Linked DNA regions of Homo sapiens. The protein of the gene in region 1 interacts with the protein of each later gene in a pairwise test. Each region holds a gene or a part of one and is shown on either strand. Other genes may lie near its edges.

Region 1 (7,775 bases):
TCTAAGACCATTCATAAATGCCATTCTGATTTTTAGCATGAAGAAAATACTTACCTTTGAAATGCATAATTACATATATGCCCTAATTCTCTAATCATCATTTTACTATTTGAAGTTATAGTTGATGAAGTCTAGAAAATAGTTAAGGGCTTTTTTAACCTCACAGAAAAATAATGCCCCCAAAAAATCATTGTTCTCAAATCAATTTTGTGACTGACTTGGCCAAAACGCCAAAATCTAAATGATCTCAAATCACATGACTAATCTAAAAAGAAATATATGTCAAAATATGGAGAGTATCCTTCAGATGGGTGAAGATTTTTAATTAAATTCAAGGCCCAGCTATTGTTTTTAAAACCTAGGTAGTTCAAAGACATAGACACTATCTGAAAAAAACAAAAGAAAAGCTATCATTTCAAAAATGTCTATAGGTTCAAAATATATTTTACTTCTTTTTCTTGGCATTTTCTGTTTGTTCCTCTTTATCAAAATAACTGCTTTTTTATTATTTAAATATAAGATAGAGTAGAGCTAGGTTTTCCAGAAACATGTAGGTCAATTTTATGATCAGCTTTCAGCTTTTCTCTGAATTCTAGAGTTACGGGACCCATTACTTGCGAGGAGGAAAGAGAATGGATTAACATCCATATTAAGGATGTGCACTTCTTTTCCAGCTCATCTCAAGTCTACCAGATATACTGTAGCAGTCTAATTAAATAGTTTGTAATTTTACAAAAATCTATGTTAGGCAGAAATCTGGAATTAAAAGGCCACATTTTTATTTAGTCCTAATTTAAAAACCACTTTTTAAAACGTGAGACATTCGTATTTATTTAACTTTTTAAATATGTTCATCCCTAATGCCAAGGAACATAATAAATTATACTTAAAGAACTTTCTAAGCATAGACCATACTGTTAATAGTTGTCTAAGTATACAATGTGGAAACAGCATATTGTAATTAGGCTATGCATAAACACATACATATACATATGTACACATACATATGCATATACCTGTACATATACCTATACCTATATATGTATGTGTATGTGTGTATATATATACACACAGTCATATATTGCTTACATTCTAAGAAATGCAACGTTAGGTGATTTCATCCTTGTGCAGACATCATAGAGTATACTTACATACACTTAGAGGATATAGTCTACTACACACCTGGGTTATACCTACATGGTATACACCATGATTTATATATGTATGCCCCATGGTATGCACCATGGTACAGCCTAGGTGTATAGTATATAGTATAGCTTATTGTAAGCTACAAACCTGTACAGCATGTTCCTCTACTGAATACTGTAGGCAATTGTAAGTATTTGTGTAACTAAACATTTTTAGATATAGAAAAAGTACATTAAAATACAATATAAAAGATAAAAAATGGTTCACCTATACAGACGAGCTCCATTATAATCTATGGGACCACTCATATATGTAGTCCATCATTGACTGAGGCATTGTTTTGCAGAGCATGACTGTATATGTGCGTGTGTGTATATATATATAAATGTACATATATATATATAAATATATGAGACATTCTTATAGTTATATCCACACTTCCACTCCCACCCCCATCTTCTTTCCTTCTTGTCCTAGGATTCCATGTTGATGGTCCTCCCTCTGCAGGCAGAGCCACTGAAGGTTTCCATTCATTAAATACTATTCCCGTCTTCAGGTTAAATCACTGACTAAGTGGCTTAGTGACACCCTTTTAGTCAGTTTCAGAGTCAGAAATAAATAAACAGGAGATGAATTGTCCAAGAGATATTAGACAGTACAGGGATCAGAAGCAAAAGAAATGTGGGTAGAATCCTTTGAAACATTTTTACCACATTTTACCAAACTTGTACTAACTTAAGATGGTATCTGAGTTATCGTCTCCCTAAGCAGTTACAGGATGAGAAGGTGACCATCAACCCTGCATTGTATATTATTTACATGGAGAAAATGTTTGTCCTCATACCTGCCATTTCTAAAAATATATTTTGAAACTCAAGTATTTTGCTAAAATGAAAAAATAGGAAACTCACACCTCAGAAATGATGGACGGATGTGTGAAATAACCCCCCTCTCTTCCCTCACCTCCAAAGAAAAAATAGCACCTTACACAGTTACAAAGCTATTAAAAACCCAAGTGGAAGCCAAGTTGAGGATATTTTCAATGACAGTCACATTTTTGTTATTTTTCTTAAACTATTCTTTGCTTAAACTGCTTCGTGGGTAAAATTCAAAAAGTCCTGGATAATTTGCATGTTCACCCAGAATCCTTTCTCTTTTTTTGCAGCTTAGTAGAACTCAGCATGTTAAATAACATGAGTTTATGTAATCACTGGTAGCAGAAGTAAACCTCAGAAACTTCTGGGCCAAATGCCTAAAGAATGAATTCACTTCTCTACTCTTAGAAAATCACCACAGCAGGATGGAAGAGGGATTCCCTTGAAAACTTTTAACACTCTGGCAGTGGGTGCTTGAGAAGTAAGCTGAACACTTTCCATCCTGAATCCCAAGCCTCTCAACTCTTCCCTGAATCTTCCTCAGATCTGCTTTTGTTTTCCCCAATCTCTCTTCTCTGCCTCCCATCCTCACTCCTAGTCTCTTTCAAGCCCAAACTGCAGAGAGGAAGCAGGTAGTAACATGCTTGAATTCCCTAATCCTTTGGTTGTTACTCACCAGGAGAGAGAAAAGGAGCTGCTTACAGAAGATGCTCCCTGGGGCAGCAGAGGCCAGAGCCATCAGAAGCAGTCCCAATGGCCAGGGACGGTGGCCAGATAACAGGGCAGCCTGGGATGCACAGAGCGGCTAAGAAGACGCTGGCACTTGCACAGGGTATTCTGCTGCCACCTTGATGCAGCTGAGCTTGGTTTGGAAGACAGTCCGGAGGCAAGTGATAAACAGTAGGAGGAGCAACGGGAGAATTTCTTTCCCCCTATTCCCTGGCCAGTCTCCTTCCTTCCAGTTCAATTACGTCTAAATGCAAAGAGGCTTTCCTACAAGTGAGGAGGGTGGGGTACAAAACACCCCAAAACCCAGTCAGTAGCTCCTCCTCACAGCAGCTTTCAAAATTTCTCTTGCCACTTAACACATAGGCAGAAGGAGGAGGGAACACCCTTCATCCTCAGCCCTCCTCCCTTTCCCCCAGGTTGATGCTGTGAAGTCCTCCCCAGTTATTACCCACTCCCACAGCCTCCCCTCCTTCTTGGCCTTATTAACCTGTCTTGCCCTCGGGTACAAACATAAATTGTGCACAAACGCCATGCAAGGAAGTGATGCCTCCTCAACTGCCATTGGCAAATCAGAGGACCTAAGCGTGTGTAATCACACTCATCAGAAGTTATCTCCCATCTAAGCATTTAAGTGTCATCGGTCCTGTAGAACACTGTAGTTCTGCTAGAGAACTGGCATTCCAGTTTAAAGCAGCAACTTCATAAAGGCATGGTATCTACTTCCTGTTATTGACTATTCACTGTGGTTGGTTCTCTAGATGTCACAGGAAACTTATCAGAATGTAAAGACTTCATAAAAGAAAGAGAATAAAGAAATAGCTAGCATATAATCTTTCTTGTGGCTTTCCTTTTGTTGTACAAGATGCCACTGCTTTTTACCTTTATATTTTTTCAAGGACAACTACAATCTTTGAGAGCAAGTCTCTCTAAAATCACTCTATTCACCCTAATTACTTGTACATTACACATAGGATATCCTAGCTTAATAGTACAATCAGGCCATCAAGTGTAGATTTTTTTAAACCCTAATGATTCCTCTAACAAGAGCTTTAGCATCATTATTCCTGTCCCAAATTAGTGAGCTCAGTGATACCAATTGCACTCAATGGCAGTGATGGAAGTTAGGACAGAAGGATAAATATTTTCAAATGTTAAGGTAGAGCCCAACACCCATGCTGCTGAGAAGGGAGGAAAGAAAGGTTTTCTTCAGCTTATTTGACAATGGGAACAATTTCTCCTTGTATGTAGAGACAGAAATAAATGTAACTGCTTCATTAGAATTAGAAGCTAGGAAGATTTGGAAAATGAATGACCCAGGAGAAAAAAAACTAAAAGATATCTTGTAGTATTTTATTGCTAGTGGTATACCCACTAATAAACATATTTTGTGACTGCATTGGAATTTGATTTCTCAATCAGAAAATACAGTCATTTTAATGGAATATTTTTATATCTGGCGTTTTGGGAGAAAAGAATGGGAATATAGAAATAGAAAAATTACTTAGATGTATATGTGTACAGCCAAGTGTAATTCTGTGCATGTTTAAGCATCATCTAAGTATATATTTAGATAGATAGATAGACAGATAAATAGATAGTCATACAGCTTAAATAATTCAAAGACAAATTCTCCAACCCTAGAAAATAGAAACACATTTTTTTCAGCTAATGAAGTTATCATTACCTTTTTCTATAACATGATATTCTCCACTGAACTAGGAAGATATAGAAGAGCAAAATTAAATTGGTGTTACTGAAAAAATGGCATATATTGGTTGGATGAAGAGATTCCAGGCACTGCTCAATTCAAATGAATCCAGAATACTCTCCACAGTTCTGGGAAGTTGATGTTCTGATCCTACTTCTTTTGGCCTACTTTCTGCGTGCTCTCTTTTCCCATTATCTATCTTTCTCAAAGGTAATAGAAAAACTTGTGTAAAAGCTAACCCCAAATTATTGGTTTGCAAATCTGTTACATTACTATTTCTCCCATATTTTGTATTTGCACACAAAGGTTTCCTAAAAATAAAATATAGGCACTTTATAGGAAAAAATAATTTATTATTACAAATTATTGACTCTTCCTTAAACGTGAATCTACCTTAAAATTAAATGAAAACAAGACATATTTCTTCCAATTTTCTGGCATTAGATCATTCAGTAAGAGCTCTGTCTTAGTCTGTTTTCTGCTGCTGTAAAGAAATACCATAGCCTGGGTAATTTATTAAAAAACAAAACAAAACAAAAACAGAAATTTGTTTGGTTCATGGTTCAGGAGCCTGGAAAGTCCAAGAGCATGGCATGGGCATCTGATGAGGGTCATCCCATGATGGAAGGCAGAAGACAGAAGCCAGTGCACAAGACAGACAGGGAAGTGGCCTAACTTATCCAGTTATCAGAAGTCCACTCTGATGATAACTAACCCACTCCCGAGGGTGGGGACTTCATGGCATAATCAACTTTTAAAGGTCCCACCTCCTAACACCATTACAACGGCAACAAAATTTCAACATGACTTTTGGCAGGGACATTCAAACCACTGCAAGCTCTATTTTATTTTTATTTCTATCTGTATGTTTGTTTGTTTTAACCTATGTCTAAATTAATAAGCTTAAGCAAAAGATTGTTAGTGGTTAACAACTTGGACTTAGAAGCTAGACTGCCTGGGTGCAAATCCTCTCTTTACTACTTATTCGCAGTATAACCCCTAGGCAAGTTAGTTAACTCTTCTGTGCCTCGGTCTCTTTATAACATGGGGACAATAATAGTGGCTAATTCATAGGTTGTTATGAAGATTAAATGTGATATTATAAAGAAAATACTTCCAACAGTGTCTGGCTCAGAGCAAGCACTAATATTTTACACCATATAATTGCCTAGGCATGCAATAAAAAGTTGAAGAGACTGAACTTCAAATGAAACAAACACAAAGTTATTGCAAATCCAAGGTCTGTTATGTAGAGGCTACCTAAAGATACATGAATAGGTTTATTCATTGAACAAGTAGTTAAGGGGTTACATACTGGGCTCTGGCCTTTGCTAGGAGAAAAGCATCATATAGGGTGAAAAAAAGAAGACAGAAATCTTATGACGTTAAAATAAAGGCACACTTTATGGTGAAGAACATGCAGTTATCTTTCCAGTTCAAAAGATAAGATAAAAAGAGGCACTGCAGCAAATATTAAATATATTAGCCATTTAAAGAGAAATTAAGAACAATGATTAAATGTTGAGAAACCCCTATAGAAGAAAATATTTTATTTTAAATACATAAGTATTGCATAATCTGTTTTCTACCACACATTTATGGTCATACAGAGAAAGATTTAAATGTAAAGATCCACATGACTCTTGTATTTCTTTAGTTTTTTTTTTTTTAACCTTAAGGCACATCAAGGAAAAACACCTTTTTATAAATTTAAATAATATATTTTATGGAAATACAGTGACAAATTTCATTAGAGATTTTTTTTATGACCAACTTACAGAAAGGGCTCATTATGAATAAATTCAGGGCCTCAAAAAAGCCATTTACAGAGAGAACCATTATCTCTGTAAGATGACCTAATTTATTCTAAAAGACTCCTAGACTGGTAGGAATGCTGTACACATTGATGAAGCCATTACAAGGCACTTTGGGTTAAATATGAATGACTAAATATACCAAAAACTACAGGTGTAAAAAAAGGGTTTGTGAGTTTAGTATGGGTGAAGTGTATGAACAAAGAAAAAGAACTGTTAGCTATTAAAAAAAAAAAAAAAAAAAGCTTGGCTCCCATGAGTTCAGTGTACTGCAGTGGAAACTCCTTCAATCTCACTAGACTCACAGTCTTTTGCCTGGGTAAAGGGCTATTAAAACTTAGAAGTAACTCATGTGCACTAATAATTACTAACAATGATTTCCTAAGGCTGTTTGCGTAGAATAGTGATTAATTTTATATAAAATAATCACTCCCCATTATTATCAAAACTGTTGTCAAACCTATGAAAAGAAACATTAGCACACATCTCTGGGTAGTTCAGAACTCTTTCTATTCAGCCCACATACCTAACTCAAACTGGCTTAAGAGAAAACAAAACAAAATTATTGAGGACAAAAGGATTTGCTAGGTCATGTAACTGGAAGGCTGGGGGTAGCCTAACTCAGATTTAAGCATAAATTCTCTCCATCTCTTAGCTCCGCCTTTTTTTGTGTTGGTTTCATTATTTCAGTTTTGCCCAGTGTGGAGGCAAAGATCACCACCAGAACCTCCAGGATTTCAACAATGAATGGTTTAGCAAGTCATTGTTGAAAGAATATGTCTTGTTCCCAATAGTTTGAGCAAAACACAATCCTTCTGGCCTGAATCTTTTACATAAACCTAAAGTCAAGTGGTGGACCTGACCACATGGGCAAAAAGTGGTGAAGAAGTGACTGCCCAAAGATAACACTAGGCTAGACAGAAAAAAAGGATAAAAAGTAACTAGACAAGCAAATCAACAGATGTCCACTAAACTTACTGTTTCAAATTGTTATTTCAATAATACTAGTTAGTTATTCATCACTTATGTATTAGCACCTCCTGTATGCTGAGTATTACCAGTGGTGCTGATTATACAGAATTGAAGAAGACATGATATCTCCCTTCATGGAGCTTACACTTTACTGTACGGTTTGAAAATTAGTTAAAGTAGTTTCTATGATGTTCAGGATTAAAATCCTGGTGAAATGAATATAACAAATACTTTAGATTTTTTTTTATTTATTGCTATTTTCTCCAATTATTATTTCCTTTGGTGGTCTTCAAAGTTACACGTTTGAAAAGTATTTTTTAATGTGGATGGAATCTTACTATCAATTACTTATACATTAAGAATCACATTATTAAATGTTGATTTTAAGCATGGTAATATATACTCACTAAAGATAATCTTTTTAATATACATGTTTCCAGTCCGGTTTCTGTGTATAGAATTTTTAACATTATTATACTTGCACTATGAATGTAATTTTGTAGCATGCTTTCTCCTAGTTATAAAATC
Region 2 (7,026 bases), on another chromosome or scaffold:
AGTCTGGAGGCTGAGGCAGGAGAATCACTTGAACCTGGGAGGTGGAGGTTGTGGTGAGCTGAGATCACACCACTGCACTCCAGCCTGAATGACAGAGAGAGACTTTGTCTCAAAATAAATAAATAAGATAAAAATAAAACATCTTCATCAACCTCTGGTAATCTACAGAAAACTTAATGTTATCGTGAAATCAAATACAATAGCACTTATAGGATATGTCTCACAAAACAGATGCCGACATCAGTGGCTCAGACAGTTGTCCAGAAGGAAAGTGGCCTGCAGCACACCCGAAAGATGCTGCATGTTGGTGACCCAAGTGTGAAAAAGACAGCCATCTCGCTGCTGAGGAATCTGTCCCGGAATCTTTCTCTGCAGAATGAAATTGGTGAGTCGGTATAAGTATCTATGTGTAATATGTACATGCTGAAGATACAATGCAATGAAATGTTGTCTGTATCACCTCCCGTTCACAAAGATGCACTGGAAATGGGAGTAAGGAGTAGGTGATAAACCGGCCTGCCTTTTGTGCCACCAGATATCACAAACAGGCTTTCTCAGTGGATCTCACCAGAGATTTTTTTTAAATATCCAACATTTAAAAAAAAAATTACTACAAAAGAGAAATTTTAGAGCATACTAATAATTAACAAGATAAGTAATATTGTTGATATTTTTCACTGGGTGGCACCCTCAGTCACACCATCCAATGAAGTCTTTCTAATCCATATAGTTGTCTTTCAGAATGTTCTCTCTGTGGCTCTCTTAAGCACCACAATTCTAGAACATTTGAAAAACACATATAGTGGTGGTTTACTTTAGTAGTTTGGCAGTGTGTTGGACTATTAAAAAAATGGATAAACAGATAATCACAATAAAAAGACAAGGAGTCACTGAATATAGCAAATTTGGCATGGATTTTTTTTGAGTAACTGTGATGAGACATATTTTGCCTTTGACTGTATTATTGACAGAGATGATAACGGTACTTTTTTATTTGTTTGCTTATACCAAGAAGTATGTGATAAATGTTTGTTGTATCTAGTAGAAAATTACAAAATGAGATGATAGAAAGATAATGCTAAAATTAAACATGCTTCATAATGCTCTGTAATCGGTCGTTTCTAACAACTCAAATTCGGTTTTTCACATTTCACAAAAATTATAAACAATATTTTGCCTGTTTTAATGGATTAGATTTTTAAATATGCACATATATAGCCCCAGAGATATTAAAGGCTGCAGTTATGTTTTAGTAATGTCATTTTCAAAGCCAGCCAGCAGCACATTTGACAGGAGGTTTTATGCAATGGCTTCATGCTCATTCTAAGTAGAGATAAGCCTGGAACATTCTCAGTGAATCTGAAAGAGACCTCGCCATAGGCACTCTCAGAATTATTAAAATGCTCTCCCCATGGTCTTTTGTGCTGAACTTCAATGGCAGTGTATTATCCTTTCCCTTTTTTGTTCTTTTCCCAAATGAAAAATTGACTCCATCTTTAAAACACCACCAAGGTAAATAACAGCACTATACACATTAAGCATGTACCTTCAGGGCAGAAATGCTGTTGGCCTCAGGTTCTGCAGTCCCCTAAATGTCGGGAAGGTATAGCTGTAGCCACATGGTTTATATTAGAGGATTCTGTTGATAAACTTCACTTTAAGGATAACAGAGAAAAGAGGCTTCAGCAAGATAAATGCTATTTTAAAATTCCAGATTGGCTTCATGTCAAATATATAAGTAAAAGGACTTCTCTTAATTCAGAATTTTAATAGCAAGAAATAAGTGAAAGTCAGCTTGAACACATGCTTTGTGTTTCTCATGAGAGCTTTCTAAGCCAGGTAACTTTCCCTGTTCTCACCTGCAATAAAGTTGTTATGTTTTACTTACATCTAGAGAAATAAACTTGAAACTTACATTTTCTCAAAAACTTAAAGACAGGCAATGGAGCATGGTAACAGAATAACAGATTTCACACAGAAAACATGGGTTTGTATCTCACAGTGCTATTTTGCCAGTCAAGGCCTTTCATTCTGTAGTTTAACTTACTAAAAGGAGGGAGACTTCTGATAATAGCATCCACTGAGAGCTTACCACATGCGCAGTACTGCAATACAATTAACATGCATTGACTCGTTCCCTCAGAACAACCCTGTGACGTAGACATTATTATCCCACATTGCAACTTAGGGAAAAACAAATAGAGACATTAAGTAGCTTGCTCAGGCCATAGAGCTGTAAAGTAGCAGAACCAGGACTGAAACTACAGCACTCTGGCTTTAGATGAACGCTGAGCTCTCCACAGTATGCTGTGTGCTTGAACCACAGTCAAAAGGAAAGTGTTCAGGCCTGTGAGCAAAAGGTATGTCTTACCTGTCAATCAGGTCCAGGTATTATGATGACATATCATTCAGTGCCTTTTATTGAGTACTTGTCCATTTCAGGAATAATGATCAACGCTGTAAACACAGAAATAAGTAAGATAATTGGCTTCAAGGAACCCACAGCCTCATCTGAAGTTGAGACAGTCACACAATTCATTACTATCAGTATCATAGAGAGAGAAATGTGCTTCAAGATGCCACATGAACACAGATGAAGGCACACAATAAAATTAGGCAGTATTTGTTAATTGCTGATAAACACAACACGTATTCAGAAGCTGTGGGGATCAGCAAAAGCAAAAGATGCATGCTCTCTATCTTTTAAGAAGAGTCTAAAGTGGTTAGAGGAAAAAGAGGAAAACATACATGAAAATAACTATTACAAAAAGTTTAAGCACAAGTTCACATTGACCAAAATATGTACCATAGGACAAGTTCCAGTGGATTTATCAAATATTAACACCTTTTAAGAATTTTCAATAGATTTTTGGGTACAGGTGGTGTTCAGTTACATGCAAAAGTTATTTAGTGATTATTTCTGAAATGTTGGTGCACATGTCACCTGAGCAGTGTACACTGTACCCAATGTGTAGTCTTTTATCCCTCACCCCTTCCTACCTTTCCCCCAAGTCCCCAAAATCCATTATATAACTCTTGTTCCTTTGCATCCTCATAGCTTAGCTCTCACTTATAAGTGAGAACATCCAATATTTGGTTTTCCATTCCTGAGTTATTTCACTTAGAATAGTGGTCTCTAATTCCATCCAATTTGCCGCAAAGGCCATTATGTCTTTCTTTTTAATGGCTGAGTAGTATTCCATGGTGTGTATATACCACATTTCCTGTATCCACTCGTTGGTTGATGGGCATTTAGGTTGGCTCCATATTTTGCAATTGTGAATTGTGCTGCTATAAACATGCATGTACAAGTGTCTTTTTCATATAATGACTTCTTTTCCTTTGGGTAGATACCCAGTAGTGGTATTGCTGGATCAAATGGTAGTTCTACTTTTAGTTCTTTAAGGAATCTCTATACTGTTTTCCATAGTGGTTGTACTAGTTTACATTCCCACCAGCAGTGTAGAAGTGTTCCCTTTTCACCATATCCATGCCAACATCTATTAAATTTTGATTTTTAAATTATGGTCATTCTTGCAGGAGTAAGGTGGTATCTCATTGTGCTTTTAATTTGCATTTCCATGATAATTAGTGATGTTGAGCATTTTTTCATATGTATGAGGCGTATCAAAAAATTTTTCTTATGCCATTTGTATATCTTCTTTTGAGAATTGTCTATTCATGTCCTTAGCCCACTTTTTGATGGAATTATTTGGCTTTTTTCTTGCTTTTTTGAGATCCTTGTAGATTCTGGATATTAGTCCTTTGTCGAATGCAGTTTGTGAATATTTTCTCCCACTCTGTGGGGTGTCTGTTTACTCTGCTGATTATTTATTTTGCTGTGCAGAAGCTTTTTAGTTTAATTGGATCCCATTTACTTATTTTTGGTTTTGTTGCATTTGCTTTTGGGTTCTTGGTCATGAACTCTTTGCCTAAGCCAATGTCTAGAAGAGTTTTTCCAGTGTTATCTTCTAGAATTTTTATGGTTTCAGGTCTCAGATTTAATCTTTGATCCATCTTGAGTTGATTTTTGTATAAAGTGAGAGATGAGGATCCAGCTTTATTCTTTTACATGTGGCTTGCCAATTATCCCAGCATCATTTGTTGAATATGTTGAATAGGGTGGCCTTTCCCCACTTAATGTTTTTGTTTGCTTTGTCAAAGATCAGTTGGCTGTAAGTATTTTGCTTTATTTCTGGGTTTTCTATTCTATTCCATTGGTCTATGTATCTTTTTTATTTTCTATAGCCTAATTGTGAAAGTGGCATGTCTATTTTTTTAATACCTTTCTTGTTAGTACAAAAAAAAAAAGCCAAACTCAAAACTTATAACCAAGAAGTTATATACATAGTAGAAAAGTACATTTAAAATAGTTTATTTCTCTTTTTAAAATAGTAGGCCAGGCGCAGTGGCTCACGCCTGTAATCCCAGCAGTTTGGGAGGCTGAGGCGGGCAGATCACCTGAGGTCAGGAGTTCGAGACCAGCCTCAACATGGAGAAACCCCATCTCTACTGAAAAAAAAAATATACAAAAAATTAGCCGGGCATGGTGGTGCGTACCTGTAATCCTAGCTACTCGGGAGGCTGAGGCAGGAGAATTGCTTGAACCTGGGAGGCGGAGGTTGCAGTGAGATGAGATCGTGCCATTGCACTCCAGCCTGGGCAACAAGAGCGAAACTCCATCTCCAAAAAAAAAAAAAAAACAAGAGTAGTATTACTTATGTATTGGAAAAACCTTGGGAAGCAAAGATTATTCGTTTATTATTTATTTACTATTTAATTTTACTTTTTAAAATAGAGACGGGGTCTCATTATATTTTCCAGACTGGTCTCAAACTCCTGGGCTCAAGTGATCCTCCTGTCTCGGCCTTCTAAAGTGCTGGGATTACAGACATGAGCTACCTTGCCTGGCCTTAAAAATGATTTTAGCTTGGCCAGGCGCGGTAGCTCACGCTTCTAATCCCAGCACTTTGGGAGGCCCAGGCGGGCGGATCACAAGATCAGGAGATCAAGATCATCCTGGCTAACAAGGTGAAACCCCGTCTCTACTAAAAATACAAAAAAATTAGCCCGGCGTGGTGGCGGGCACCTGTAATCCCAGCTACTCGGGAGGCTGAGGCAGGAGAATGGCATGAACCCGGGAGGCGGAGCTTGCAGAGAGCCGAGATCGCGCCACTGCACTCCAGCCTGGGTGACAGAGCAAGACTCTGTTTCAAAAAAAAAAAAAGATTTTAGTTCACTATTAATATTGTTGTAGAAAAACAGCTCCTATTAACATTTTTCCTCAGGTTTCTTACGTGGGTTTTTTGGTAATAGTATGTATTCTTTTTTTTTTTTTTTTTGAGACAGGGTCTCTCTCTGTTGCCCAGGCTGGAGAATAGTGGCGTGATCTCTGCCCACTGCCACTTCTGCCTCCCAAGCTCAAGCAATTCTTGTGCCTCAGCCTCCTGAGTAGCAGGGACTACAGGCACAGGCATGTGCCACTACGCCCAGCTAATTTTTGTATTTTTAATAGAGACAGGGTTTCACCATGTTGGCCAGGCTGGTCCTGAACTCCTGACCTTAAGTGATCCACCCACCTCAGCCTCCCAAAGTGCTGGGATTACAGGTGTGAGCCACCGAACCTGGCCAATAATATTATGTATTATTTATATAAATATACTGATTTTTCACATACACTATTAACATAATTATTTTCTTTTTATTATACATGCTTCATAGATAGGTTTTGTGATGAATAATAGTCTTTGCAGGTGTGTTTTAGTTAATCATAGTCCTATTATAAGGATATTCAGGCTTTTTAGTTTTTCAGTTACATGTAGTACTGTCATAAAGATCTCTGTAGAAAGCTTTTTTCATTTTCAAAGTGATATTTTTAAGATGTATTCCTAGACATGGAATTACCGAATTGAAGAAGATGAAAATGTTTTAAGTTCTTGACATTTCTGCCAAATTACACTCTGAAAAGATTTTCAATATACTGAGCACAGAGTATCCTCTTTTCAAATATTTTTAAAAATTTGTTATTAGGGAAATTACATCTTTCCATGTGTTGTTAACCAGCTGTGTTTCTTTTTAAGAAAGTTCTTGGCCGGGCGCAGTGTCTCACGCCTGTAATCCCAGCACTTTGGGAGGCCGAGGCTGGCGGATCACGAGGTCAGGAGATCGAGACCATCCTGGCTAACACGGTGAAACTCCGTCTCTACTGAAAATAAAAAAAAATAAAAAAATAAAAAAATTAGCCAGGCGTGGTGGCGGGTGCCTGTAGTCCCAACTACTCGGGAGGCTGAGGCAAGAGAATGGCGTGAACCCGGGAGGCAGAGCTTGCAGTGAGCCAAGATGGTGCCACTGCACTCCAGCCTGGGCAACAGAGCAAGATTCCGTCTCAAAAAAAGAAAAAGAATGTTCTTCACCCAAAATATATTGGGATCTTGGGATTAAGAAACAATCTTTTTAATCAAGTGTTTTGTTTTTTTTTTCATTTTGTAGCCAAAGAAACTCTCCCTGATTTGGTTTCCATCATTCCTGACACAGTCCCGAGTACTGACCTTCTCATTGAAACTACAGCCTCTGCCTGTTACACATTGAACAACATAATCCAAAACAGTTACCAGAATGCACGCGACCTTCTAAACACCGGGGGCATCCAGAAAATTATGGCCATTAGTGCAGGCGATGCGTAAGTCCTTCAGTTCTGCCCGTCAGCTGCCTCCCTTTCCCCTCACCAGCCTGTGTGTAAATAATCCGGTTGTGAATGTGCGGTCATGACCATCATGTGCAACATGGCAGCAAACAGGATGTAAAGCCAGGCCAGATCATCTGGTCAGCCCTCAGTGATCAGCCAAGGAAAGAACTGAATCCACCACACCACATGCTTGTCCCTTCTCTTCTAAAGTATCAACAGAGGGTCAGACTCCAGAACTTCTCTTGGTTGTGCATTCCAGCATTGTATTGGCCTAATGAATTAGTTTCCCAAAGCCACAGCTGTGATTTAATAACAGCAGAATGTAGGCAAAGCAGGAGTCC

Evidence for each region.
Region 2: the proteins of DSC1 (region 1) and PKP2 interact in a two-hybrid assay, tested with the Homo sapiens proteins (one study listed by BioGRID).

Annotation. Positions count from the first base shown.
Region 1 is NC_000018.10:31,159,832-31,167,606, forward strand, and holds the start of DSC1 (desmocollin-1 isoform Dsc1a preproprotein), read right to left. Parts: upstream 3,026-7,775; 5' UTR 2,764-3,025; coding exon 2,701-2,763; intron 1-2,700. UniProt on the Homo sapiens protein: A component of desmosome cell-cell junctions which are required for positive regulation of cellular adhesion.
Region 2 is NC_000012.12:32,795,762-32,802,787, reverse strand, and holds part of PKP2 (plakophilin-2), read left to right. Parts: intron 1-231; coding exon 232-385; intron 386-6,489; coding exon 6,490-6,679; intron 6,680-7,026. UniProt on the Homo sapiens protein: A component of desmosome cell-cell junctions which are required for positive regulation of cellular adhesion.